4 linked regions of the Homo sapiens genome follow. The protein of the gene in region 3 interacts with the protein of the main gene of each other region in a pairwise test. Each region holds a gene or a part of one and is shown on either strand. Other genes may lie near its edges. The genes, in order: B4GALNT4, CTNND2, HTRA1 and FAM107A.

Evidence for each region.
Region 1: the proteins of HTRA1 (region 3) and B4GALNT4 interact in a two-hybrid assay, tested with the Homo sapiens proteins (one study listed by IntAct).
Region 2: the proteins of HTRA1 (region 3) and CTNND2 interact in a two-hybrid assay, tested with the Homo sapiens proteins (one study listed by IntAct).
Region 4: the proteins of HTRA1 (region 3) and FAM107A interact in a two-hybrid assay, tested with the Homo sapiens proteins (one study listed by BioGRID).

Annotation. Positions count from the first base shown.
Region 1 is NC_000011.10:364,614-372,499, reverse strand, and holds the start of B4GALNT4 (N-acetyl-beta-glucosaminyl-glycoprotein 4-beta-N-acetylgalactosaminyltransferase 1), read right to left. Parts: upstream 3,002-7,886; 5' UTR 2,697-3,001; coding exon 2,546-2,696; intron 2,294-2,545; exon of another isoform or gene 826-2,293; intron 392-825; coding exon 288-391; intron 1-287.
Region 2 is NC_000005.10:11,383,434-11,390,455, forward strand, and holds part of CTNND2 (catenin delta-2), read right to left. Parts: intron 1,797-7,022; coding exon 1,232-1,796; intron 1-1,231. UniProt on the Homo sapiens protein: Has a critical role in neuronal development, particularly in the formation and/or maintenance of dendritic spines and synapses. Involved in the regulation of Wnt signaling.
Region 3 is NC_000010.11:122,485,545-122,492,566, reverse strand, and holds part of HTRA1 (serine protease HTRA1 precursor), read right to left. Parts: intron 3,666-7,022; coding exon 3,566-3,665; intron 3,146-3,565; coding exon 2,941-3,145; intron 1-2,940. UniProt on the Homo sapiens protein: Serine protease with a variety of targets, including extracellular matrix proteins such as fibronectin. HTRA1-generated fibronectin fragments further induce synovial cells to up-regulate MMP1 and MMP3 production.
Region 4 is NC_000003.12:58,567,381-58,574,402, reverse strand, and holds part of FAM107A (actin-associated protein FAM107A), read left to right. Parts: exon of another isoform or gene 1-1,068; intron 1,069-1,612; exon of another isoform or gene 1,613-4,077; intron 4,078-4,537; coding exon of another isoform or gene 4,538-4,542; coding exon 4,543-4,712; intron 4,713-7,022. UniProt on the Homo sapiens protein: Stress-inducible actin-binding protein that plays a role in synaptic and cognitive functions by modulating actin filamentous (F-actin) dynamics. Mediates polymerization of globular actin to F-actin. Also binds to, stabilizes and bundles F-actin.

The sequences.
Region 1 (7,886 bases), on a different chromosome or scaffold from region 3:
ATACACTCAGACACCCTGGTCACTCTAGCCCAAGCAGATGCTTGGCCACCCCACACACTGACCGGCCGGCACATTCATGCACCTGCTGCAGCCCCCAGACACAGAGCTCCAGACAGGATGGCTGGTGCTGGAGCTCACACAGACAAGCTGTGCCGTGCCCCACATGTCCTGTGTCTCATGCCCCCTGCTGCGTCCTCCAGAATGGACAGGTTCTCAAGACACCAACACACAAGTGGCTTCGGGGTCTCGTCTCCGTGCACACGTGTTCTCCCCAGGGCTCTGCTCACCGCTTGCTCCTCTTCACGGCTCTCACTGGAGTCCTCAGCCCTCTGTGTGGATGGCGCAGCGTGGACCCCCCGGCCGTCGGTCTCACTGGTCAGCTTCTCACCATCTGCAGGTGGCACATGAGGCCTGTCTCGGGCCCAGGCTCTCTCCAAGGCCATTCTGCCTGCTGCTGGGTTCAGCTGGGCCAGGGACCCACATGGCCAGAGCAGGGCAGGCAGGCTGTGGTGTCTCTCACTAAAGCCTCTCCTTCTCATCTGCTTCCTCTGCCACCAGATGCCCCTCCCCCCAGCAAGGCAACTTCTTCTACACCCCACCTCTGGTGGGGCAGCCCAGGCTGAGCCTTCCAGCAGGCTCTTCCCAACCTCCAGCAGGTGTGAGGGAGGAAAGCCGGGTGGGCCAGCTGGCGTGTGTAGGCACCCACATGCACCTCCATCTGGCCATTCTTGTTGAGTGGCTCTGCCTCCAGGAAGACCCCAGGACTGCCCTGTGCCCTCAGCACTTTCTCTGTGTGCTGGAGTGTTCCACGTCTGCCTCCCTTACCAGAACTGAGAACTCAGGGTTAGTGCCAGGGACTGTAGTCTCTCCTGAAGGATTTGAGCTCTCAAAGTCTGGACTGAGGAACAGGCATGGATGCTGACGCCCAGGCATGGCCCTGGAGCAGAGGGTGGCCCTGGATTGAGTGTCCTTGGGTAGGAGGACCAGGAGGGGCAGAATTGGGGTGAAGAGAAGCATCCCTACAGATGCTCAGATCCCAGGGCGTGGAACCCCCTGGGGCTGCAGTGGGGATGTCTAGGTCCTCAGCTTAGGGAGGTCCAGGAAGTGGAGAGGGCTGGGGTGCAGAGCTGGCCTGCCCAGGCTTGTGGGGAGGCAGTAGAGATGTCCACAGGCAGATCTGGGAAGGGTCCCCCAGGGCTCCCCTGACTTGGGCCCCAGGTCCCCCGACAGAACAGTCTGCTCACTCGCCCTCTCCCTGGGCAGCTGTTGGGCTCCTCTGGTCCTGGCCCTAGCCTCAGAGGTAGCAAGTGTACAGGTGCCCTGGGGCGGAGCTGGCTTAGCCTCAAGGGGTCCTTGGAAGAGGGGTCCCTATGCCTCCGCCCCCTCCTGGTTGGGCTTAGACCCCTGCGCTGCTCAGAAAACCACAGAGGAGCCTGCAGAGGGGGCTGGTTTTGTTCTGTGTCACTGGGCCAGCTGTGGATCCTGCCCTGTCTGCTGATAGCTGGGGTGGGGCTTTTTAGGGATTCAGCAGTATCGGGGGTCTCTTGAGGGTGTGGAAGCTGTGAGGTATGTGGGTTGGGACAAGCCCCAGACCCTTGGCCTGTGTGGGTCCAGGCGTCCCGGTACAGGAAGAGAACACAGGGGCTTTGGCAGGTGGAGTGGCCCAGGAGTCCCCAGCCAGTATCATTGTTCTGCCCCCTCAGGACACCTGGCTCCCTGGAAAAGGCTCAGAGGCAGCCAGCTGGGGTCTCTCCTGGTCTGGGCATGGCACTAACCTCCCTCCTCCAGAGGGGGCATTCTGCCCCACCTTCTCCCCCAACCCCACCGCCAGGCTTTCATCTGCGCCTTCCTGTCTGGAATGCTCTTTCCCCCAAAGGTGTATGTCAAAGATCACCATCTCCAGGAGGCCCTACCCCGGCTGGCTCACCGTGACCCCATCTGCTTTGTTTGTGGGTTGGGGTTGGGAGAGTTTACGCCAGGCTCCCCAAGCTGGGCCCCATCCCTACGCATGGACCCCCACAACACTGGCACAGTTCACCGAAGGCGCCCCCGCCGGGAAGCGTCCCAGCTGCACCGGCCACTTCAGCAAGCCCCGGCCCGGGTCCCCAGCACACAGGGAAACTGAGGCCCTGCTAAGCGGGCAGGGGGTGGAGGCGAGGCCTGAGAAGGCCTCTTGGAAGCCTCAGCAGGGTCTAGGGGCAGAGACTTCCCCAGGAGCCCACCGTCAGCCCCTCACTACCGGATCCAAGCCAGATCCCAGAGTCAGGGACCCTCTCTGGGAGGGTCGCGCGCGTCACTGCCGACGTCATCGAGCGTCCGGGCCGAGCCGAACCGCGCCCCCTCCCCCCAAATCGCAGAGCGGAGAACAGCGGGCGGGGTCTCCGGGAGGGTCGGGCCCAGCCGAGACCTCTGTGCGGTGGGAGGCCCGGCCCGCGCCCCGGGGCCCCCGCCGCCCGCGCCGCCCGCGCCCCCCGCGCCGCCCGCGCCCCCCGCGCCCCCCGCGCCGCCCCCGCCCCCCGCGCCCCCCGCGCCCCCCGCGCCGTACCTCGCCCGTAGCCCAGGCGCTGGCGCAGCGCGCGTCCCTGGCGCACCAGGCCCAGGTGCACGTAGGTGAGCCACGCGGCGCAGCTCAGCAGCAGCAGCAGCAGCAGCAGCTTCATCTGCTTACGGATCTTCTTCACCGGGAGCCGCGGCATCGCGGCCGCCGCGCCCGCCCCAGGCCGCGCTCAGCGGCGCCGCTGCAGCCCCCGGCCCCCGCCCGCCCCGCGCCGCATCCCCGGCCCGCCCCGCCGCGCTCAGCGCCCGCGGCCCCGCATGGTCCTTTGTCCGCCGTGCGCGGCCACCGGGTGCGGCCGCGACCCCCCCAGGCCGCCCTCGGCCGCGGGCCCGGGGTGGGCGGCGGGGGCGGCTCCTCGCGGTGCCCCCCGCCCGGCCGCTCCCGGCTCCGCGCTCCTGGGGCGGCGGCGGGACCGAACAGCATCCACGGCTGCCACCGCGGATCGGGCCCCGGCCGCGCGCGCGGAACCAATCGGACCGAGCCAGGCCGCGGGGAGCCAATGGCGGCGCGCGGGGAGGGGTGCGGGGCGCGGGAAGGCGGGGCGGGGCGCGGGGTGCGGGGCGGAGGAGGCGGGGCGAGGGGAGGCGGGGCGGGGCGGGGGGTGCGGAGGGTGCGGGGCGGGGGGTGAGGGGTGCGGGACGGACAGGGATGCGGGGCGCGGGGCGCGCGTCCACCTGGGCCACGGAGCGCGGGGGCGCGGCACACAGACGCGGGGCTGGGAAGCGCTGGGGCTCGGGGACCGTGGGGGGCGGCGGGGGATGGGCACAGCCTGACTGTGGGGCGGGGCGGCCTCCCGAGAACAGTGACCCGAAGGACTGCAGGCGGACAACACGGAGGAGGGAGGGGAGGGACCCGGGGTCCTGGGGGGCGGGGAATGGGGGCGGGCGAGAGAGGCCGGGGGGCGGGGGGGCCCAAGCACCGGCTTCAGCCCAGGGGTGGGAGTCGTTGCGGGATCTCAGCCTGCAGGGCTGGGGCCGCAGGGGGCCGAGCTGTCTGGGCGGCAGGAGGGGCCTCAGCTGGTGGCCCCCGCCCCACCGAGCGCGGCCTGAGGCAGGTGACAGTGTCGTGCCTCTCACCGGGACCTTGTCCCACTTCGTGCCCTTTCTCACCTGGTCTGCACCAACCCCTGCCAGTCCCTCTGTCCCCCCAGTACTTCCCTTGTCCAGCTGCCAGCGTGACCCTACTCTTCTCCCTCTGTCTGCTCAGCTGTCTCTGGGTGTGTAGCAAACCGCCCAGCTTCAGTGCTGTCCAACAGCAGCGTTCCTGTGTTCCTGTGTCCTGTGGGTCAGGAACTCAGGGCACTCGGGGACAGCTCCTCTCTGCTCCTCGAGGTGCTGGCCTCCGGTGGGAAGACGTGAGTGGTGGGGCCGGCTCCGCGGGACAGGCTGGAGCCATCCAGAGACTTCTGCCCCAAGCCAGTGCACCCTCGGCAGGAATGGCTGGGCTCACCCCGGGTGGTTGGCCAGAGCGCCTGCAGGCTCAGCTGCCAGGGGCAGCCTCCCGGTCCAGCACACAGAGTGAAGCATCTTGGAGTCACCCCTCAGGTTTGCCACATGCCGCACGGCCACCCAAGTTCGTGGGTTGTGGGGACGTGGACCCCACCTCACAATGGAAGATTGCCCAGAAGTTGCCTTCTTAAGACCTCAACTCCTTCCCTCCTTCCCCTCCATCCTCCTCCCCTAACTTCTGAGCACAGAAGCAAGCTGGTTACATCCTGCTGTTCATACCGGCCCTTAAACAACACCCGGTCTCTCAAACCTTCCCCCACCCCATCAGCTCCTCATCTCCTGCCTCCTGCAGTCCACTTTTCATATTTCTGTTATCTGCATATTCATTAAAATATAGTGCCCCACCCCTTTTTGAGACAGGGTCTCACTGTGTCTCTGAGGCTAGAGTGCAGTGGTGCAATCTCAGCTCACAGCAGCCTTGACCTCCTGGGCTCAAGCGATCCTCCCACTTCAGGTTCTTGAGGAGCTGGGACTACAGGCATGCATCACCATGCCGGACTAATTTTTTGTATTTTTTTTTTTAACAGATTCAGGGTCTCACCATGTGTCCCGGGCTGGCGTTGAACTCCTGGGCTCAAGTGATCCTCCCGCCTTGGCCTCCCAAAGTGCTGGGATTCCAGGCGTGAGCCACTGTGCCCGGCCAGTGGTGCTCTTTTATGTGTCTCATTCTGTTTCTCCAAGTCCCATATTTTCTATGTGCATCTGTCTGGCTGTGCGTCTAATGCTTTCCCTCTTTCCACTGCATGGCACCCCATCCTAGGCACATTCATCCAGCCAGTGGACGCTACCTAGTATTCTAGTGTCCTGACGAGCCAGGGACTTAGGGGACACAGCAGTGAGCAAGACAGAAAAGGGCCCTCCTTTCATGGAGTTTACATGTTACTAGGCAGGGACAGACCAGTGAACGCATAGTCGCTTTGCTGGTGGTGAGTGACGTGAAGGAGATGAGCTGGGTGATGGAGGGAGGCCGGCTCCCGCTCCAGGGTCGCTCTCTGGGGAGGCAACGGCTGGCCTGACCCGTAAACAGGTTCTTAGAAGGCAAGTGTTGGCAATGTCGGGAGAGACGTGTTTGGGACACTTCATGGGTCCACAGTCAGAGGGTGTCCCCTGTGGATCCAAAGCATAGTAGGTACAATTGAGGGGCGAGCTGGGATCTGCCGGACGCAGATGCTCCATATGCTACCACATCCGTCTCGGCCCCTTCTGGAGAAGAACGGCCACCGCCTCACTTCGGTGTGACCCAGCCACAGAGGAGAAGGTTCTGGGAAATGGGTCTCCAGCTTAGAATAAGAGAACAACCTGGCCGGGCGCGGTGGCTCACGCCTGTAATCCCAGCACTTTGGGAGGCCGAGGCGGGCGGATCACGAGGTCAGGAGATCGAGACCATCCTGGCTAACACGGTGAAACCCTGTCTGTACTGAAAATACAAAAAATTAGCCGGGCGTGGCGGCGGGCGCCTGTAGTCCCAGCTACTCGGAGGCTGAGGCAGGAGAATGGCGTGAACCCGGGAGGCGGAGCTTGCAGTGAGCCGAGATCGCGCCACTGCACTCCAGCCTGGGTGACAGAGCGAGACTCGGTCTCAAAAAAAAAAAAGAGAGAACAACCTGGCAGGTTCCTCCTCTTGACAACTCAGCACAGACGCACACTTCTTTTAAAAAACACATTTAACTTCCAAATAAAGCAAAAAACAAAGTCATGCTTCTACGTAACATGATGCAAATATTCCAACCAGAAGGGACTGAACAAAAGGTTCGTGTCATGTTATCCACATTTGAGAAGACGATCCTCGTTCTTCTAGTTTCTCTAAGAGCGTTTAACACTTGACACTGCAAAGTGCATGTTGGGGGTTGGATGACACAAATACTGAGATGAAATGTAAAGTTAACTGTTGTTAACGCATTTTATGCAGCTAGGAGGGCAATGGAAGAGGAAAAAAGCAGGAAGAACGGATAATGTCAGTACAAGTGTGACTTGTGTGAGGATAAGAAGTACTCACTTCTACGGTCACCAGGTCGTGGCTGGTACAGTCTTTATGGCCACGCTCTTCCGTCACTCCTGCGTGGTCCCTTTGCCCTCTGCAAGCACCTCTGCTGGTCGTGGTTCACTGTCTGGTGGGGTGACCCAAACGTTCCTTCCCAAAAGGCCTATGCTGTTAGCAGTTTTGCCTTATGGGGTGGTTCTGGTTTTCCAGTGGTGTTTTCTGCAAGGCTTAGAGGAGCTACGTGATATTACAGACGATCTCCTGCCTCCCAAATTTCTCCCCCTTAGCCCCATTCTGTGATCAGGTTCCAAGTTCCCCTTGTTGGGCTCAGTCAGCCGGACCAGCACAGGGACCCTCTTCTTTGTCGACCCCCTGGTGTGAGGAACCGGCGTCCAGGTGGGCAGTCTCAGCTTCCTGCGTAACGTGTCCCCTGGTGGAAACACTCCAGGGCTTTCCCAGGACCGAGGGGATTCCTAGGACATGGAACTTTCCGTTTTAAACCTGGGAAAGTCGGCTGGGCGCGGTGGCTCACGCCTGTAATCTCAGCACTTTGGGACGCTGAGGCAGGTGGATTACCTGAGGTTGGAAGTTCGAGACCAGCCTAACCAACATGGAGAAACCCCGTCTCTACTAAAAATAAAAAATTAGCTGGGCATGGTGGTGCATGCCTGCAATCCCAGCTACTAGGAAGGCTGAGGCAGGAGAATTGCTTGAACCCAGGAGGCGGAGGTTGTGGTGAGCCGAGATCGTGCCATTGCACTCCAGCCTGGGCAACAAGAGCAAAACTGAGCCTCAAAAAAATAAAAAATAAAAAAATGAAAATAAGACCGGCAAAGTCTTAAGCAAACTGGGATGAGTTGGTCCCTGGGAATCTGAGGCCTCTAGACCAACAGCGTGCAACACTGCAGGGGGCAAAACTTTCACTTGTGGCTCACTGGGGATTAACGACAATGGGAAGAAGTTGGGGTTTCCACTCCTCCACGCCTGGACCAGTGAGCCCCGGCTTTGGGAAAAGCCAGAGATTAAGTGCTGATTCAGTGGATCCGCTGCATCCAGAGGACCCCAGATCCACAGCATTGTCACTCAGCTGGTGCCAAAACTGAGCCTCCCAAAGGCCATTCCATCAGGAACACGGCGAGATCTGTGGGTTCCAGGAGCACCGGCCGGTTGCTGTCCCCAGGACAATGGCGATGCCGCCATGAGGAGCACCCCGTGGGTGGACGAGGAGCTCTGAATGTGTGGGGTGGTGGTTTGGGCAGAGGCATTGAGGGCACTGACCATCCACAGCTGGGGTGGGAGCCCATCCTGCTGGGACAAGCATCCTCCATGGTGGAGGAAGGGGCCAGTGTTGGTCTCCGCTGTTGGCTGCGCGGTGCCCAGGGTAATCCGCTTCCCACTGCTACAGCCACTTGGCCCGACTCAGGACAAGGGGAGCTGGGGAAAGAGGCTGCCTGATGCGCACAAATGGGTCATTTTGTCCGTCTGACTATTAGGGTCCCTCCTCTGCTGAGACAGGTCTTTGCACACAAATTCTTTATGCTCTGCCCACCCCAAGAGGTCTGTCTACATACCTTCACCCCGACCGTTTCATCTCTAACTTTGTAATCGTGCCCCTCCAAGTGCCTGGCCATCAGCTAGACGGTCGGCCGTGGCCGGGGCGTCCACGGAACTCTGCCTCCTCCTCCATCCTGCTTGCTGCTCGGCCCTGCGAGGACCTGCCTTTGCACCTGTCGTGCAGGCCTGGCCTCCCACACCCAGGTGAGGACCTGCCTTTGCACCTGTCGTGCAGGCCTGGCCTCCCACACCCAGGTGGCGCTGCCGTGCTGGGGCGCCCACTTCG
Region 2 (7,022 bases), on a different chromosome or scaffold from region 3:
TACTCATACTGGGTTGGCACTAATAATTGTCTACCTCAAAAATTCTATTTGAGAGAGAGGCAGTGAGTGAGAGAATATTTTCATTTCAGTAAACGTAGCTAGCATAATTTTGTGGGCAGTGGCACCCTAGCCTGCATCCTGTTAGGCCAGGCCAGTCCACACTGGCAATTACTGTGCTGAATTAAAGAAGCCCTTGGCCACCTGCCTCATGCATGCAACAAGCTCCTTTTTTAAATCCTATTTATCTTCACAGTCATCTATTTGTGTCAAGAAAGGAAGCATATGAGCACAGCATCTGTTACTAGAGTGACACAATTACCAAATCCTTCTGTAAGGGAAAAAAAATTCACAATAAATCCGGGTTAGTTGTCAGGTGTTTCAGAAGACAAAACATTAGTCTTTCAATCATGGTGTCTTGTTTAAGCTGAGCATATGGTGCTAACAGCAGAGAGGCACCAGCGCAGCCTGGTCGCTGACGGGCATAACGACCACAGAAATGTCACCTCCTCTAAACTGGGAGAGGAAAGCAGGTTTCTCTCCCCAAGCCCAGCCCCTCCCTCCCTGTAATAAAGCAGGTACAAATTTAAGGGACTTCATCATTGCTAACTTTGTCGCAAATGTTAGGACCCAAGTACATCCAATGACAGGTATGGGAGAGTCCTTTAGTTTTCCCAATAACTAATTTAGCAAAGATGTAAATAAATTCAAGCCAAAACAAAAGGGTAATAATTCAAGGCAATTCATTATTAATTATTTCCCCACTACTATTGAAAACTATGTAAGCTGAACGTCTAATTTGAGAAAATCCCTTACTTTTTCCACAATGAAATGTAGACAACTAAAGGTGACCCTGTCAATACTGCAACTGTTACTTGTTTTGCTTTTTTTCTGGATACCATCAACAGGTCTATGGGATGCTTTCCTAAATGTGTCTTACTTTTATGAGTTAGTCTTTAGGCTGGGGAGAGGGCAGAGAGAGAAGAGAGGAGAGAAGAGAGTGATATAGGTGTTAGAGATTGAGACACCACATTACTCCGGAAAAGAAGTCACTGACAAACTGTAGGGAAGATACTGACTTGTTCCAGGAAAGCCCTGGCGTTCTCTGTCTCCTGCAACTACTACAACCTGGCAGACAGCGCGCCCGGCTTCGCTTCTGCTCAAGCCGGGCTGCTGCTTCCGCGTCCCCGCCACGCGCCCAGGTGAGTCGCGCCAGGTGGCAGCGAGCCTTTACCTGCCAGGCTGCCCGGCCTCTGGAGGGTGGCCGTGGCATACAGCTCCTGCGAGTGCTTGCTGTACTGCTCGGACGCGTGGACCAGGCGCTTGGTGGGCGACAGGGTGGCGTACGTGCCGATGGTGGAGCTCAGCTGGTGGATGGGCGAGGAGGAGATGGTGGACTGCACGGTGGGGGGCGAGGTCACGCGGATCGGGGACAGGCCGGCCGAGGACACGACGATGTTGATGGGCGAGCTGGTGCTGTAGGACTTGGCCAGGCGGCTGGGCGACTGCTTGGGCGAGGAGCCGCGCGGCGCGGCGTAGGTGGCGCCCTCGGGGGCCGAGCCGCCGCGCTGCAGCTTGGTGGGCGAACCGCCCTGGGGCGCGGCCAGCGGGGAGCCCCCGCGCGGCGGCGCGGGCAGCGTGGAGCTGGAGTAGTAGAGCGCGGCGGCGGCGGCGGCGGGCGGCGCGTCGGGCAGGTGGAAGGCGCTGCCCAGGCTGGGCGCGAACGGCTCCCGCGGCGGCGGCGGCGGCGGCGGCGCGGGCTCGGGCCCCGCCAGGTGGCCGGCGCGGCTGGTCGTGCCCTGTGCCCGGGAGAGGAGAGAACACGCGCACTTAGCGAGGGAGAAGCACACGGCCCACCCGGCCCAGCCCGGCCCCGAGAGCAGAGGCACACCGGGGATGCCGCGGGCGCCCGGCGGCTCTGCGATCCCAGCTGCGCTCGGGGCAGTACGCGAACCTGCGCCCCGAACTCTCCTGGGGCGGATTTCTTGTCCTGACACTGGCACAGGCCAGCTGACTACTGGAGGGAAGTCACGTTTGACAAATGAGACCTGTGTTTGCTTACATGTAGATGTTATTTCGGAAATAGCAGAAGCATCGCATTAGTCACATAAAGATTTTTAAAGCCCCACCCCGACAGGGCAATCATGATCTCCCTGGTCGCAATCACAATCTGTTTGTTTTAATGAGAAATTCGGGCAGTAAATCTTTTTCTGTCCCCCACTCCCCACCCTTGCCCCAGGTCATTTCATTAGATACACTTTCTACCTCTGAGATTGGCCGAGTTACATACTTATCTGGAGAACATCAAGAATAAACATACTTCTTACAGTTTATTCTGTTGCTATTGTCGCGTGGATTCTTCTTTTTGGACAATGAAAAGTTAAACGGAGGGAAAAATACTAAGTCAGAATGAATTCGCTTCGTCTTTTCAGCATTAAAAAAAAATCTAGAGGAATTAGAGCAATTGGAAATGAGAATGCTAAAAAAGCCTCCCTTTTCTAGATTTTAATACTGGGCTCCCAATCTTTCAGCATCTTTCTCTCTCTAGCTCCCTTTAAGAGCCCCCTGCAGCTGTGTCTTCAAACTGAAAGCCATTCGCCTCTCATTTATTTACAAGAACACAAAAGACAACAAGGGCTGGGGAGGAGCTGGAGAGACAGTTGGAGGGGAAAGCACTTTCCTTGAATCTTGTCCAGAGACAAATTTGCATTCGAATGAAAACACTACATTGTCAACCACTTCTGGGCAGGAGGTCTCAGATCTTCCAGGCTTTCCCCGGGGAGCAGAGAGGATTTTGAGAGCCTGCTGGTGTGAAAAGGGAGTAGGATTGTACACAGAGTTGGAGAGAAGCTGGGAAGGAGGGATTTGAAATGAGGGATGAGAGGTGGGTGGGGAGGAGGACTCCAGAGAGATCGAGGGAAGGGAGGAAGAGAAGATTGAACAGATGCTAGCCATTAAAAGTTTCAATTATGCCTCTCTACCCGTTCTGGAATGGCAATTGGCAAATAATAGACTGGGCACTTTCACTGCACATACACAGGCATTCCAAATTTTATCTGGGATGTCAAGTTCATATGCAGATCTGAAGGAGTTAATTGAGCAACATCAAAATTCTCTATTAGGAGCAGCCTGGCATAGGAGGTAAACAGTTTGGTGAGAGACTTTCTCTATGCAGAGTGTGTGTATGTGTATGCATATGTATTTATGTACGGTATATATATTTTAAATATTCTCACACACACATGCAATCCATAAAGCAATTATTTTAATGTTAAGAGTGAAAGTAAAATGTAAGCTCCATGAGTTTGTTCAATGTTGTGTCCCCAGCAACTAGAACAGGGCCTGATTCCTAGCAGAGACTCCAGGAATATTTGTGGAATGGTTCCTCAAGTTAGTCTCAAGGCTATGAGGGTCTTATATGTGGAGGATGGGTAACGAACACTACAGATGTGGGTGTGCTTACTCTGAGCCCCAGAGAAATAGTCTAGCTTCATCCAGAGTCATTGAGGGGGTGGCTTTGATGCAATTTTGCTTCTCTCCCAGTGGCAGCTCTGAGCATGAAACATGTATTAAATAGATTGGGCTTCTCAAATCTAGTTGTATATTATAATCTCCAAGGGTGCTTTTAAAAAAAATCTCAATACTCATGACTTACCATTGCTATTTAATTCAGCATCCCTGAAGGTGAGACCATATATCAGTTTTTTTTGGAAGCTCAGCAGGTGATTTCACTGTGCAACCAAGCATGAGTCCCACGTCCCGCTAGAGCAGTGGTTTTCAAAGGGAGGTCCCTGATGGTCTTTTCAGCATTAAAAAAAAAAAAATTCTAGAGGAATCAGAGCAATCAGAATCATACCCCCACCATAAACTGAACAAACTCTGGGGGAGGGGCTGAGGGATCTGGGTTTTAACCAGTACTCTGGGTGATTATGGTGCTGGTCAAAGTTTGCCAACACTGCTCCAGAAGACACTTGGATTTGGAGGGTGCGGAGTGGGCCCCAGAGTCTGCATTTCTAACAATCTCCCAGAGCAGGCAAATGCTGTTGCTCTGAGAACTACCACTAAGCTGCAGACATTTTTCTTCTGAAGCTCTACTGGGGTTCCCTATCAACTGGGGCCTGAGCAACACTCAGCCATGCAGAACACAGCTGGCAAGTGATGGAAAAGCATCCGACAAAAATTTCTGAAAACCCTTCCCACAGGAACAAAATGAGAAGAAAGAACCCTTTCTCTAAGGTTTCAGGAGCACTCTCTGCTCCCTGTTTACAACAAAACAAAAACTTTTTGTTATGTCTTGGCTATGTAACATTAATAAAACAACCTTAGAGTACACTAACGATGCCATTACCAAATAGCATAATTTTTAATAAATACTAACTAAAGCATACCAATGTAAATGAGAATATTAAGTCGGTATTCATTCTAATATTTAAATATTAGAACATATATCCTGTGAAAACCTTAATGCTTTTTACAAATACTTTATTTTTCTTGTAATCTGTCAAAACATCTAGTCTCAGGTGTACTAAGTGCTGAATACGACTGTCTCCTATGTTTTCTTAAATGCACCCCAAATCTGTAGAAGTCTTGACAACTGCCACATGAGCTGTAGACATTTTGACAAGCTACGGCAACCAATTTGAAAGTCTTTTAGATATTATAGGATCTTGGTAAAATTGTGCTAATAATTTTGGCATGAAAAAAGGAAAAGTATAAACAATAAAATTTTATATACTGTTTAACATAGTAAGTGGTATTGTCCACTGTGTACTAAAATGCACTTCCAAAAAAGCCTCCTGAATCCATTTGCATAAGAAGCCATTATCAACTAGAGCACCTTCTCAGGAGCACCAGCTACACTGGTGTGTTACCAGCAATGCTTTCTACAACGTAGAGAATGTTCTCAATCCGTACTGCTCAATATGGCACCGCTGAACACATGGGCTGATTGACAGCTTGAAATGTGGCTAATCAGCTGAGGAACTTCAGTACATACTTAACTTTAATTAAGTTAAACAGCCACATGTGACTAGTGGCCACCTTCTTGGACAGCACAGTTGTCTAAGCTCCTCTGCAGTTTACAATAAATAAACCAGGGGTGCTATACTCCATTTCAATGGCTTATAGAGTAATAAATGCCTAAGAACTATTCTTTGGTTAAACAGAGAAATTTGTTTTGTAGCATCATTTGAATAAAAACAAAATTTGGGGGAGCCTCTTTTCACCCTTGTGCTTATGTTTTCTTTCACTACCGAATTTGATTTAGTAACTCTTTGTCAGTTAAGGTTACCTGAGGCTGTCATTCAAGCCAGCTGCACAATCATAGGACAGTTTATTACTACCCATCGTTGCATTAGAGATAATCGAAACACATTCCAACACATACAGAATTGTATTCACTTTAGTGTCACAAGAGTTCAATTCTACCTTAAAAGTATGTTAGCACTATAAAGCTGCAAATCTGATTTTAAAGTTAGAATTCAAGTAAAGTTTCATTTTCCTTTTTTAAACTAAAGATTACTACATACTGCTTCCCTGCAGATATTTGGAAATGTGTGTGTACATGCAAAGACAGTTGAAATAATTTTTTATTGATGTGTGACTCTGAAAATAAAAATAATGATATAACAAATTTAGATATACTTGGAATAGATTGGGCCCCATCCTTGGTCACACCATCTAGGCTGTTGGCAGAGACAATTCTTGACTCTGTCTTCATTCTCAGCTCTTTGGATCAGTCTCAGCCTCGAGGGCAACTTTATTTGTCTTTCCCACTCCTTCAAAATGAGGAACCCATTTACGAGAAATGGACAAGGAAGCAGAATGTTCACAGATAAACAACCCCATCAAGGAGATGTTCTGATTCAACAGTTTCTGATAGGTAGAGTATGGTGCACATTAAGTGTAGTTCAGTTCTTGTTTCCCTTATGGGAAATTTTTCAAGAAAAATATGGAACATTAACTCATCAAAGCTATTACAAATTATTTTATCTGTATACATATGTTTCAGATGGGTCAGATTTAGGATATATTCAGTGTCACAATTTTTACATTACATGGTGTGTGTGTGTGTACTTAGTGGTATATTGAGGCCTCTTGTGTAATTGTAGATGCATTGATATCTATTTTATAGAACTGTTTAAGGGGAGGATGTATTTACAAAGTATAGTAGAAAAAATATTGAAATGGGAAGTTAGGGAATATGTACATTATTCCAACAGCCATTAATGAACAGTACTCAAGTTTGATGCATTAATTTACTCACTGACTCAATAAACCATTAAGAAGAGCCTACTACAGTCTGGGAATCCCTACTCTGAAAATCCAAAATCTGAAATCCAAAAATCCCAAACATTTTGAGCACTGACATGAATGTCACAGTAGAAAATTCTACACCTGACACCTTTGCTTTCTGATGGTATAATGTACATAAACTTTGTTTCATGTACAACATTATTTAAAATGTCATATAAACTTACCTTCAGGCTATGAGTTATGTATGAAATACAAATGAATTTTGTCTTTAGACTGGGGGGGAGTCCCATCCCAAGAAATCTCATTATGGATACGCAAGTATTCTAAAATCGCCCCCCGCCAAAATCTGAAATCCAAAACACTTCTGATCCCCTGCATTTCAAACAAGGGATGCTTGACCTGTCTACACCATGTACAAATGAGGAGTTTGTTTTTGAAGAGCTCTCAACAATTCCCTTATATGGAGTATTTTACTTTGATGTTATTTTGGAGATCTATCGATGGAGTATTTTTGTTTGTACAGAATACTATCTGGCCACAATTAAGACACTGTTCTTTGGGGGAGTAGGAGCCCCTAAGAATATGGCACTCTTAAACCAGAAAGTGGCACTCGTTTTAGTGCCAAGCACATTTGCTTCCAGATTCTTTCACGCTGAATCTTCTATGGAGGGAGTAGGAATGGCAGAGGAGTCATAAGGGGACAATTCTCAGAACTTGAAAATTTATTCAATCCTCATTCTTTGGGGATCTGGCAGTGCAAACAAAACAAA
Region 3 (7,022 bases):
AGGTCAGGAGTTTGAGACCAGCCTGGCCAACATGGCAAAACCCGGTCTCTACTAAAAATACAAAAAGTAGCCAGGCATGGTGGTGCACGCCTGTAGTCCCAGCCACTCAGGAGGCTGAGGCAGGAGAATCACTTGAGTCCTGGAGGTGGAGGTTGCAGTGAGCGGAGATGGCGCCACTGCACTCCAGCCTGGGCAACAGTAAAACTCTGTCTCAAAACATAAAAATAAAATGAAATAAACATGTTTATGAAGGACAACGGGGGCCCCTCCAAGTGAAATCAGGATGCCAGGGGAGGAGCTGGGCCCAGATGATAAGCCACCGAGTTAGTCACTGGGCCCACGGACGCGGCAGGCAGTCTCACCAGCTTCACTGGGTTACTCTTAAATGGCTTTGCAGGAGGCTGGGCCACAGTCTCATATGACAAGGAGCCGTGTAGGTGATTTTCATTCCTCAAGCACAGTTTCTGCTGGTTCTGTTCTGCCTTCTCGGTTTTCCTGATCTCTTTCATCCTCTTTGTTATCCCTAAGATGACACAAAGCAAGGCCAGCCAGAGCTTCCCCCGAAATAACCCATCATCAAAACAAGGGAACAAAAGAGAAAAAGCTGGAAGAGATGCTGTTACTCTCCCTACTTTCAACTACTATCAGCAAAAAAAAGCAGTTTAGTCAGTGGAAACCAGTCTTTTGTGTGGGTGTCTGCAATTTAATATCCTTTCATTTCCAATTCCATTTTGAAAAGCCACATCAGTTCAATTTTAAATTTCAAGCACCCTTTCTTGGGGGGCTTGAAACACATGTCAAACAGCATGCTGCTGGCTGAAGAGCTAAACTCCCAAGACAGCAGGAGTCAGGTCAGACACACTCTGCAAAGCTCGTCTATTGAGATCGTTCACGTCTTGCCAGGACATGCCAGGGATGGCACGAGGAGACAGTCTCCACCTTGGCTCAAAATTGGAAAAGAATATCCCCCGGCCAGAAGCAGCCGCACGGTATGTGCCCACGCATTCCAAACACGAAGTTACGCAGTGGGGGCGGCGTCCAGGCCAGCGCCTCGCCTGCACACAGCCCATGCCCTGCTGCTGGCTGCCTCCCAAAGCTCCATGAGGCTGAACAGGTCCCACGCGTGGCCACAGGCTGTGCTATTCTGACTGGCTCCTTCCGGTGAGACTACCACATCCTGGATACCTTTCTAGCAGCCTGTTCCTAAACCAGATGCACCCGCCTTCCCATGGGCTGTTTAAGGTCAAGCTGTCCCATCAAACCACGGGGCCGGCCTCTATCCCTCCAGCAGTAGCCATGGGCTGCCTTAGGAGGGCAGGGTCATGAGGTGTTTGCTGTGTGGCCTCACACAGGTTACTAGACTTCTCTGAGCCCCTGTTTCTTCTTCTCTAAAATGGGGATAACACAGCTATTATGCAGATTAGGTGAAAAAGAATGAAGGCAGAGGCTGGCCCAATAATCCTGTGACCAATAAACACACTTTGAAAGATTAGTTGTCGCTAGAAATTCCACAGTGACCTAATAGAAATAACACACAACTGCAGCCTCACTCAAGGCCAGTTACACACACCGGGCACAGAGCCTATATCTACCCAGAGCCTCTTCGGCCATGCCTGGCCACCCAGCCATAGAGAAGCTACAGGAACATCGGGGAAGGAGGGTAGTAAATGTGTTAGCTGGTGGTTTTCTGAAGACTGGCCGTAAAGGAGCCTGAGCTGGGCAGCAACTTGATGTTATAAAAAGACGGAGAAGGAGACCCGGAATCCTACCACCCAAACAGCACACGCAGAGTTGTTTCCAGAAGGAGGTGTAACCAGCGTGCCACTGAACAGCACAAACAGCCAGATTAATTCCACGCTTGTCTGGAATTACTCAGCCCACACCCAGGTAAAGCGAGGCAAGCAGAGGGCTGGACAAGAGACCCCACCTGGCTCAGCCTCTGGTCTTTTCCTTGGTCAGAGGCAGGATTCCAGCCTCCTCTGATTGTTCCCTCCATCTGAAGTCTAGAAAATTATAAGGATGTGAAGAAACTGGAAACCACGCTTTCACTGAACATGCCACACAGCAAACAAAACCTCTCTCATCGACGTGTCGAGTGGGGGTTTTTGATGAGTCAGTAAGAAATGGATATTGTCCCAGACATGAAGACTTTGCTAAGCAAATCAACAGAGCAAAAATGATTGCAAAGAGAATATTTAAATAGAAAGCATTTTCAAATACAGCATTTCCCAAACTGATTTTGGTATGTCTCAGTTCTGCCTGCCCCCACAAAAAGCTGTATACTCAAATGATTATAATTTGGGCAAATAGTTCAGTCAACACCCTTTTGTAGGCAAGCCACGTGCACACTAGCATACTAAAAGCTCTGAGAAGGTCTGGAAAGAAGAAATCCATTAGCTCTGTTTTAATTCAAGTTTTCCAAGATGTTTAAAGTACGAAACATTCTTTTGAAACACATCTCATAACCCCGCAAAACCCCAATTTGGGAGAGCTGGTTTGTTTTCAAAGTAACTGTTGACAAGTTAAGGATGGCTCAGTCTAAAACCCAGTAAATTCTATGTTCATTGTGAACGCATGATGTATCTGTGGAGGATAAATAAAATCTGTAACAAGAGTTGCCACAGGATTGGGAATGGGAAGGAGAATCAATTTTCACTACTTACCTACTAATTTCTTTACAAATCTATTGCTTTCTTTGACAAACATTTAAAACATTATTTTAAAAACTTTTATCTGGCTCCTTACAGAAGTTTTCCTGAGCCCCTTCCTCTCCCACACCCCCAGGCCATACTCAGCATCTCCTCAAGGCCCTCCTGTGACTGGCTCAGACTGGCTTCAGTGCCCCCCGAGAATCAGCTGCAATCAGAGAGCTCTGGTGCCTTTGCCAAGGGTGTTCCGGGGCATCTGAGAACTCACCTCTGCAGGCGAGAACACCCTTACCTGGTGGTCAATTTTGATGAGTGCGATGTCTGCTTTCTCATCCACATCCTTGATTTTGGCTTCGTAAGTGGCACCGTTCTTCAGCTCAACTTTGACCCGGTGCTTGTTGGTCACCACGTGGGCATTTGTCACGATCAGTCCATCTTCCGACACAATAAACCCAGACCCACTAGCCACCGGCACCTCTCGTTTAGAAAACGGAAGCCTAAAATCCAAAGGAGTACACACTTAAGCCTGTAGCACCTTAAAATGAACGCTTCAACGCATTGATTAATGGGTTGTGCAACAGCCACACACACCTAGCCATCGCTCCTTTATATATCGGGCTTAGCATTTAAACACTAAACATCCTGCCAATTTTTTGCATGCATCAAAAACTTCCACTTACAAAATATTCTTAGAGAATCTCTTCAGAGCCCGAGGTTCTTTAAACATTCAGAAGGGTCAAGAATGTAGATTTATATAGTCGAATAGGGAAAATGTTCTAAGGGAGACACACTTATCTTAAGTAGGAAGATATTCAGTGACACTTTGACACTTTAATGTATCTCAAAAATAGCTCTCATGTTTTGCTAGTGGCGGTGAAAGCTTCGGAGGTTATAGGAAAAAGGAAGGCTCTCTTTACTTGCGAAACAATTCGATATGAACCACGGCAGGGGCGATCTTCTCCACCACGTCCGCGATAAAGTTATATTTATGGCGCAAACTGTTGGGATCTTCCTGCCCTGAGAACAAAAGCAAAGAATAGATACTTAATGACACTCTGCTGTGGCCACCTAGAGAAAGACATGGGTTAGAGGAAGCCAAGATGCATGCCCAGCCTTTGGAATTCTGAAGGCGGAGTGAGCGCAATTCCCCCACCTGGGCTCAGCTGCAAATGTCCATCCACCTCCCAAGGGAGTGCCCACCCAGGTAAGGCAGTAAAATCCACTAATGATAACCTCTTTGCTCAGGTTCACCACAAAAACGTTGAGCAGAGGCACCAGCAAATGCTTCAACCTCACACCAGCCTTTCCAAGAAGCTGATGGCCCAAGTTTGTTTTTTGTTTTTTTTCAGTTTATTTTTAGATGGAGTCGCACTCTGTCACCCAGGCTGGAGTGCAATGGCGCAATCTTGGCTCATCACAACCTCCACCTCTCCGGTTCAAGCGATTCTTCTGCCTCAGCCTACTGAGTAACTGGGATTACAGGCACCCACCACCTTTGTATTTTTGTATTTTTACTAGGGACCGGGTTTCACCACGTTGGCCAGGCTGGTCTCGAACTCCTGACCTCAGGTGATCCACCTGCCTCGGCCTCCCAAAGTGCTAGGATTACAGGCGTAAGCCACCACACCCAGCCAAGGGTCCCTTTTTGATGTGGCATCACCCTCTGCCTGCGTCCCTTCCCTGAGTCCCCACCATTACAAAGAAGCAACAACCCTCCTGAGAAACACCGCAGGAGCAAAGAGCACCGGGGCTTTTTCTAGGAGAGGCCCACCAGACGGGTACATCTGAGATTATTACGAAGAAACACGAAGGCAAAGGGGCAGCTCCTATCTTTCCCACTGACACCCCAAGGCAAGCTGAGGCCATCGTCTGTCCCCAAAGCAGTTTCCGCCATGCCTTAACCACACGTTCCAACCCTGCCCGGGACATCCCAGACAAAAGGCATAAGAGGTGCCTTAAGACTGTGGGTGAGAAAAAGAGAAAAATCAAACAACTGTAATGCTTTATACCTACAGTCATGCACCACATAACGTTTCAGCCAGCCGCGGACCATAACACCATTGTTTTTACTATACCTTTTCTATGTTTGAATACACAAATACTCACCATTGTTACAACTGCCTACAGTATTCAGTACAGTAACCTACTGTACGGGCGTGCATCCTAGAAACAACAGGCTCTGCCATCTGGCCTAGGTGTGGAGTGGGCTCTGCCATCTAGGTTTGCGTAGGCACACTCTGTAACATTCCCACAGTGATGAAATCGCCTAACGACGCATTTCTCAGAACGTATCCCTGTTGCTCAGTGATGCATGACCGTTTATATTACAGTGAGTGGCCCCACGTGGTGGGCGTTTCCAAAGCTACTTTCAACAAAGCTGTCACATGTCCCGATGTGAGGCTCTCACCCAGCAGGGCTACAAGTTAGTTTCCATCAACCAGAGGCACATACCCAAGGTAACTGATTCAGAAACGGACTGCTAGAGATTCAGGGTCCTGGGCTCCCATTTTCGTGGCACGGGTGGTGGCAGAGGCAGTGTGTCCCTGGAAGTGCAGCCTTAGCCTACTACTCCGGCTCCTAATCTTGCCACCTGCTGCTACCTCTTAACAAGTCTCTGCTAAAGCAGGCTGGAGAGGTTCCAGGCTGGTCTGCAGCTGAGAGCCATGCACCCCATTCTTCCCCCTTGGACTAGCTCAGCGTTGCACAAGCAGGCTCCAGGGACCCGCACTCCTCTGCTAGCTGCTCACTACGAATTGACAGGAAGCTTTCGGAAACTTTCATAGCAATTTCACATGGTAATCTTATGTCTGTTGCACTGAAAAATGAGTAACTGGGGCTTGTATTTCCTGTCTCACATTTTGTATTTTGTAGGTATTTTGTGTCTCATTTACCAACAGGCCTGTGTGCCTGCCCCTAACACACATGCATATATACACAGAGATGCAAATGCACACACACACACAAACTCACACATACACACTATGCATACACACCCACAGATGTACATGCATAAACACACCCACACATACACCCACATTTACACACAAACTGTCACATAAACACCTATACACACTTCCACACACATTCATATACTCACAGATGTGCACATACATACAGTCACACATATATACATGCAAATGCACACATACATACAGACGCATACACACACACACACACACGCCTCTCTCATCACTAGAGTGGCAACCCTTCCCCAGGCTCTAGGCTATAAGTAAAAGCTGTGAGACGTCCCAGCCCTCTTGTGACCCGTCACAGCTTCACACCCACTGGTTCCCACATCCCTGCTGCACTGGGTCACGAAGGGCCATAGTAACCCAGCTTGACACCATGGGGCACAGGGACATCGGGAGGACCACCTGCCTCTCCCACGCTTGCTTTCTTGGAAGTGAGAGCGCTTCTGTGAACAAAGGGCCGTTTTCTGTCCTAGCCCCTGACCTCTGAGTTGCTTTATTTAAAGATTGGAATCATCTCCTTTTACATAGCATGGTTTTTTTCTAAGGTACAGAAAAAGATCTGCAACTACTTGGAAGAATAATTTAACAAATTCAGAACAGTATCATATTATTATTTTTGCTTTCAAAACCCTTTCATTGGCTGCCTTAATTTAATTTTTTCTACCTTCATGTGGAATAGGAAAATCAGGTATCCTTCCCATATTATATATGGGGAAACTGAGGCTCGCAGACTTTAAATAACTTCTCCATGGACACTGAAGTTTCTTAATAGAGAGTATAAGTAACAGATCTGGGCAAGCCCTCCCAAGCCCACAGTGTCACCAGATCTACAGCTTCTCACTTCAACACTGGCCTCCTACAGATCTGCTACCCTCCTAGGTTTCCAGGTAGTTGCAAATAATTGGTGTGTCCCCCCGAGCACTCCAATGGGAGGTGTAAATAAGGGAATGGAAATGTTCCTTCTGAAAACAGAGCCTGGCGAATGTCACCAGACAGCTGTAAACAAACGCATCTGGGCTTCCTCAGACCAGCTTCCTGGGGAAAGGCCAAGAAGAGGTTTAACTCCAGCCAGGCCAGAACACAGAGACAGCGTGGTGTTTCAGAAACTCTCACAAGAAGGACCATTACCAGCGCCTTCCCACTAAGGATCATTAACTCACTTCCTCTTTCTGGCTTCCTGAATTAGGTATGGGAGAATTTGCCCACACCAGGGGCAAAAATGAAGATGGATTGAAGGTGGATTTTGCTGGGTAAAATGAGAGGCAGTTCCCTTCTCACACAGTCACATAAAGTGGTTCCAGGGTCTTCCCACCAGGAAAGCAACAAGGGAGATCAAGGAGGATCTGGCCTGGCCACTGGAAGGCCCAGTTCCAGCCTCAGTCCACTGAGCAGCCTCCATTTC
Region 4 (7,022 bases), on a different chromosome or scaffold from region 3:
CAAAGTTGGCTGACTCTAGGAATCACCTAGGGAGCTTTTAAAAATCCCCAAAGCCAAGCCGCCCCCCAAACCCATTAAATCAGAATCCCTGTGGTGGGACTCAGGCACTGGAATTTTTGAAACTTCCTGTGGTGATGCCGATATGCAGCCAAAGTTAAGATCCACTGATTTAACCAGTGTGGTTTCTGAGGATGAGAAGGCTCCATCTAGGACTAGGAATGGGATTTATTAATAGTGATTGTTAATAGCAGCTAACAGGGTGGTCACACTGCCATTCCAGGGGCACCATTCACAGTTTAATCTATAGGAGTTGAGGACTTGCTGTGAGGTACCCAACCAGCCTGTTGTATGTGGCAGCCCTGGTAGCCAGCCCCAAGCGCTCAACTCTGTACGAGGCATTTGCCAAGCACCTTGCAAGTATCACCTCGTTTATGATATCACAAGTTCATGGAGGAGGATTCTAATGTAACGCTCATTTTGCAGAGGAGGAAACACCAGATCAAAAGCAGCTGTCCCATCTCAACTCTGCTGTTCAGTGGGAAACAGCCATAGACAATAAGTGGGCGTGGTGTGTCCCAGGGCTGTGGGATTTGGTCCAAAGGCTGTAGTTTCCAGGCTCCAGCTCCAGAGGGTAGGGAGGCATGGACAGAGCTGACATTCGAATGCAAGTCTGAATGGCTTCAGCCTCCCTATGCTACTGCTTCCTCCTGCATTTCTTTAACAGCCATGAAGAATACAAACAAGCCACTTACCTTTCTCCTTCGTGATTGGCCCGCTCCTCCTTCTCCCTGCTAGCTCTTCTCCTGGGTGTTCACCTTTTTCTTTCCAGAGAGGACATGTCTAATGCCCACTTCCCCTCTTAGCTGCTCCACAGCCACTCCCCGGATGGACCCCAGAGTCTTGGATCTCTCGGGATGCCCAGAAGCCTTGGGAACAACCCCAGTCCTCTGCCTCAGGAGGCCCAGCTGACCGCCCAAGACAGCCTGGATTTTCTTGGCCTGCCACCTGTGCTTTATTGAGTAGTCTCTTTTATAACAGGACCTGCATGAGGTTCTTCCACCCAGAGACCTTGGTTAAATAAATTAAAAGGCAGAAAGGCTGGCTCAGCTTTCTAAGTCCTGGGGGTCCCCAGCAACCCTCCTCACCCCACCCCTCATAGGTGTATACGTGGATCTCACAGGGGTTGTTTGCTGGGGTTCAGCACCCTGAGTGGCAAAGGCGATGGTTTTTCCCCTGCAGCTCTGAGCTAAGGCACCAGCCACATCCCTCAGGGTTCCTGCCTCACCCACCACACCAGCCTGGCCTCAGGGAAATACCATCATCCACAGCTCACTGCTGATTTAATTAATTTTTTTTTTAAGGCCTGGAGCAAGTCATTGAGCCAGGGCTGACCACAGATTGGAGCTGGGGTGCAGGACTGGCTTCATAATTGACAGGGCCCAGTGCAAAATAAAAAAGGAGTGCCACTTGTTCAAAATGCATTTGGAATTTCAAGACAACAACAACAGAAGGTCAAACCAAACAGGGCCCCTCTTCCAAGGGCAACCCTGTGTGACTGAGTCCGACCGTCTGGCCCTGGGGCAGCCAACCCACTGGCTGGCCGGCAACTTACGTATGGGGCGAAGGTCTCAGCCAGGTCAATCACAGATTTTTCCCCTGGAAGTTAACAGAAGAGACAGAGACCACCCATTGGAAGTGAAGGAAACCAAAGTCAAAACATCCCAAGGCCTCTGATGGTTTCCCCACACAGCAGCGAGAATAACCTTTTTATAACTGAATCAGGTGCGCCTTTCCCCGACTTGAACCCACCCGTCCACCCTCACTCCAGGCGCTCTCCCAGTCTCTCAGCTCACACCACTCCCAGCACACTATGTCTTTTTGTTCCCTGAACAGACCCAGCTTGTTCAAGGTACATGAGTCACACATGCTGTTCCCTAGGCCCCAAATGGCCTCCTTCCTCATTCTCAACTGTCAGATCTTAATGTCGCCTCCTCAGAGAGGCCCTCACCACACCTGGCTGACAGCGGGTCCCTCCTTAGTCTCTATGGGAGCCTGGAGCCTTTTGTGGTCTTTCGTTTTCATTGGCTTGTGTGTGTGCTGACTGTTGGCCTCCCCAGCAGAGTGTGGGTTCTGTGAGCGCCGGGATCTCACTTGTTTAGTTCTCCTCTGTGTGTCCAGTGTCTACCACAGTGCCAGGAAAATCACAGGAACTCGAACATGTGTGGAATGCATGACTATTTTTATTATTACGCACTTTCTCAGTGGTCATTCCCGTTACTCAGGAGCTCTTGATTTTGTGTACTTATTTTGTATCTGGCCACATTCTTGAACTCTCTCAGTTTCAAATGCGTTTCTGTTCATCCATGTGGGAATTCTGGGTGTATGGCTTTATCTATACAAATATTAAGGCTGCCATCTCCTTTCCTAAAGTTATCCAACTTATTCTATTTCCTACCTTATCACTTTGGCAACATACAGTGAGTTCTTTTAAGGATGGTGTGGCTGATGAAAAGCAAGCAGCTCTGGAAGATTTGGGGGGCACAGAGGGACTAAGAACAGGTGAATAGCTGGGGAGCCAAAGTAGTTATTAAAGTGTGGCATGAGCTGAACAGGAAGAGAGCTGAGGTCACGGGAAGGAAAGAGCGTAGCTGAGAATTACTCAGTCAAAGGATGGGCGACACTTGACAATAGGAATAGGCAGCAAAAGAGAGAAGATCTCAAAGCTCCAATCTGAATCCAGGTGTTCTAATACGTAAGCACCCAGAGAGCTTGATCCCACAGACAATAAAATACCCACACTAAGGAGTGGGAGCTGATACAGCCAACTATGTATTTTGTCGAGTGCCCATTTTAAAGTAACTCTAAGTACTATTATGATCACTTTTTAAGGACCAAAAAATTAGGAAGGATATAACCTGAAAGCAAACAGCCTTATGAAAAAGATGAGAAAAAAAGGGAAGTTAATAAGAATTCTCATTACAGAAATGGTTCTGAGAATATGAATTTGAGAAAAAAATTAACATGTCTATCCTCTGACACTTCACCTGGCTACATCCAAAATACCTTATAATAATTAACACTTTTTCCAGGTTACACAGCACCTTTACGTATGTGGTCTTACTTGCTCCTCCTAACAGCAGCCTGTGATGGGTCATCATAGAAATGCCAAACACGGGTCTGGTGGCCACCGTTGCAAAGTACAGTCTCCTGTTTTATGCCCAGATTCCTGACATATCACCTTGCAACGTGCACCCCGTCAAACCCCCCTCTCTGTATTTTCTGACCCCAATAAGCTGTTTGCCACTTTCAGGTTTTCACACATCCCTGTTCATCCATGAAACTGCATTTGGGCAGAGAATGGTTCTCATCCCCTTCCCAGTGTGGGGGAGGAAATGAGAGTCTGTCCACAGGCAACATGGTGGCCCTCAAGCAGGGGCTGAAGCCTGGTGTTTGAAATGGGGACACACTCCCTCAGTTGCCACATGAAAATCACATGCCACCGGGCACTGGTTCCCCAAGACCAAAGAAAACTTCAAAAGTTGCATTGGCAATTACCAACAAATGTGTATTGATCGCCTACTGCATACCAGACCAGACACTGCCAACTGTCAGGGCCTGGCATATAATAGGAGCTCAACCTCTGCAAAGCTAGACTCATGAAGAGAGCAGAGCTAAAGTCTAAATTTTCACTGAAATTCCTATAAGCAGCTAATGGCCAGGCAGTGTCTATACCTTTGAGGCCTTTTTTTTTTTAAGTCAGTCTCTTTCTCTCTCTCTCTCTCTCTCTCTCTCTCTCTCTCTCTCTCTCTCTCTCTCTCTGCTGTATTTGCTTTTGGGCATTTCAAGGATAAGGAGCCAGTTTGTAGAAGAGGGAGCCCTTGTGTCTGAATTTTAAGTAAACTGACAGATTTCAAACCGCTGTGGTAGAAGTGGGGCCATTGAGTAGCCAAACATTTGACAACTATCCCTTTGCTATTAGGGACACAGCAGTCTCTGAATTTCATGCTCTCCTCTTTGATGTGAAGAAAATGAAAAGCTGAACAGTTGTGGAACTGTGGATAGAGTTAGACAATAAGGGTAATACTTTCTTTTTATCACTGCATTTATCCAAATTGTTTTTAACAAGTACATGTTACTCTTTTTAAATATATTTTCCTTTTCTGTTACAAGCTCATTGAAAAACAGAAACTCAAACATAATTCCTTTTATAGTGGGCGAAAACTGTTGCAAAGCCAGGCCAAAAATATGCATGTGTCAACCCGTATTTTGTGACCCGTTATCATTTTACTTCTATACTCCAGACACATCGCAAACATCATCTCCAATTCTGACAGCCCTGTGCATGCGTTCCGTTATGATTTCCATTTTATAAGTGAAGAAACTAAGGCTCAGAAAGTCAGGTAGCTTGCCCAGGTATGCGCAGTAGCAGGTGGCCAAGGTCCATCTGACATGAAAACCTTGCCCTTCAACTGTGTCCCATGGGGCAGGGTGAGATTATAGGCTCAGCTCTGAGCTACTCCTCTGCCCATCTCTACAGCCGCCATGTACTCGGAGATCCAGAGGGAGCGGGCAGACATTGGGGGCCTGATGGCCCGGCCAGAATACAGAGAGTGGAATCCGGAGCTCATCAAGCCCAAGAAGCTGCTGAACCCCGTGAAGGCCTCTCGGAGTCACCAGGAGCTCCACCGGGAGCTGCTCATGAACCACAGAAGGTAGGGATGAAGCCCTGCTGCCTGGGCCCCGCAAGCACCTGGGCCTGTGGGGGATGGGGAAGGTGACCCTGGAGGAAAGCAGAGCTGGCTTTCATCCTGGGGCTCCTGGAGACTGAGGAAGGCTGAGGTGCCCCACATGATCACCGGCAAAACCTGTAAAGACCCTGTCCCCAGTGGGTCCCTGGGAACCAGAGGGACCAAAAAGCCCTGTTCTCTTGCCCAGCCACCCATTTCATGCCCACACTCCAGATACATTTACTGAGTACCTACTATGTGCTGGGCACTGAGCCCAGACCTGGGGATACAAGAATGAATGGGACCCAGTTCCTGTCCTCACAGACAGGGACGGGTGCATAGCCAGGCAGTAGGATGGGTGCATTGATGAGGGCATAAATAGGCCTGAGACCCCAGAGGAGGAACCCGAGAGGGGTCTAAAATGACTTCACAGGAGCGGTGCTGCCTCAGCTATGACCTGAAGGGGGACTGGAGTTAGCCAGGCCGGAGGTGGGTGCTGGATGGCAGAGGGAACCTCATATGTAAATGAACAGGAAACAGGAGTCACTCACTGTGCCTGGGGCATCGATTGCGTGGTGCAGGCCAGGGCAGAAGGATGGACTAAGGAAAGGTCTACAGCAGGGGCACAAGGTGTGGTGGGCCCGTCTGGTGAGGTGGGATGGGGGAGCTCACAATACCAAAGTGGGCAGGAATGTTACAGAGGCCCAGGATGGTGGCTGGCTTTTCCGTGGAAGGCCGTGGTGTGCAATGACAGAGACGAGCCAGAGGGGCATCTGGGAGGTGGCAGGGGTGGGATGGGGCAATTGATGGGATGTGAATTGGAGAAGAGGAAGGCTGAGCCTCCCCTTGGAGGACTGGGAAATACTCCTGCTAACCAGTAACAGCGTGAACGCAGCGGTGCCTTCAGAGCGCCCTCTGCTGGCCGATTCTGGTATTAGAGCCGGTTGTGATTTCTATTCTTGTTTTCAGTTGTGTGACCAATATCCTAACAGTTATCATTTTGTACACTGAGTCGCTTTTGTTTTTGTTTTCAATTAGTATTATAATATGAGCATTTTCTCTGAATGGTTTTTAGACTCGTCCCTTTAATATCAAAAAACATCACCACAATCAAAAACAAAAGCTTAAAGACAAATCAGAGAAAGTATTTGTAATATAAATAAATTTTATTTTTAAAACTCACATATACAAAAAAAAATTCAGATCTCTTGTTTTTTTTCTTTTTTTCTTTTTTTTTGTTTGAGATGAAGTCTCGCTCTGTCGCCCAGGCTGGAGTGCAGTGGCGCGACCTCAGCTCACTGCAAGCTCCACCTCCCAGGTTCATGCCATTCTCCTGCCTCAGCCTCCCAAGTAGCAGGGACTACAGGTGCCCGCCACCACACTCGGCTAATTCTTTTGTATTTCTAGTAGAGACAGGGTTTCACTGTGTTAGCCAGGATGGTCTCGGTCTCCTGACCTCGTGATCCGCCCTCCTCGGCCTCCCAAAGTGCTGGGATTACAGGCGTGAGCCACTGTGCCTGGCCCAGATCTCTTACAATGGACAAGGAAAAAATGAATAAAAAGTAATACAGTACAGCCAGACATGGTGGCTCACACCTGTAATCCCAACACTTTGGGAGGCCGAGGCAGGAGGATCACTTGATCCCAGGAGTTCAAGGCTGCAGTGAGCTATGATTGCACCACTGCACTCCAGCCTGGGCAACAGAGCAAGTCCTTGTCTGTAAAAATAATATTGATAATACAGTTAATTCACAAAAGAAGAAATGCAAATGGCTGGTAAACATATCAAATGTTGTTCCATGTGACTAATAAAGAAACAAATGAAAAGCAGATATTCTTTCTGGCCTACCAGATTCTCAAATATGAAAAGATTGGCTGGTGATGGTGGGGAGAAATAGATGCTCTTGTACACTGTTCAGAGGAGGATACACTGGATAACCTTTCTCAGGCACAGATAGATATATGTACCTCAAATCTTTTTAAAGAGCCTGACCCAGCAATTCTACCTTTAGGAAAGTATCCTAAGAAAATAACCAGAAATAACATAAAACTTGGTCTCTGCAGTCAAACAGGCCTGGGTTCAAATCCTCATGTGGCCTACCTGTAGCTATGTCTTGGACTGGTATCTTCAGCCCTAGGAGCCTCAGTTTCTGTCCCTGTAAAATGGGACAGTAATGGGTCCACCTCCAAGGCTACAGGGAGGATTGCACAAGATAATAATGGGGGTTGGTGTCACCGCAGGAAGCAGCCCTGAGGCTGGGGGAAGCGGGAAGGTGATGGTCTCCTGACAGCTCC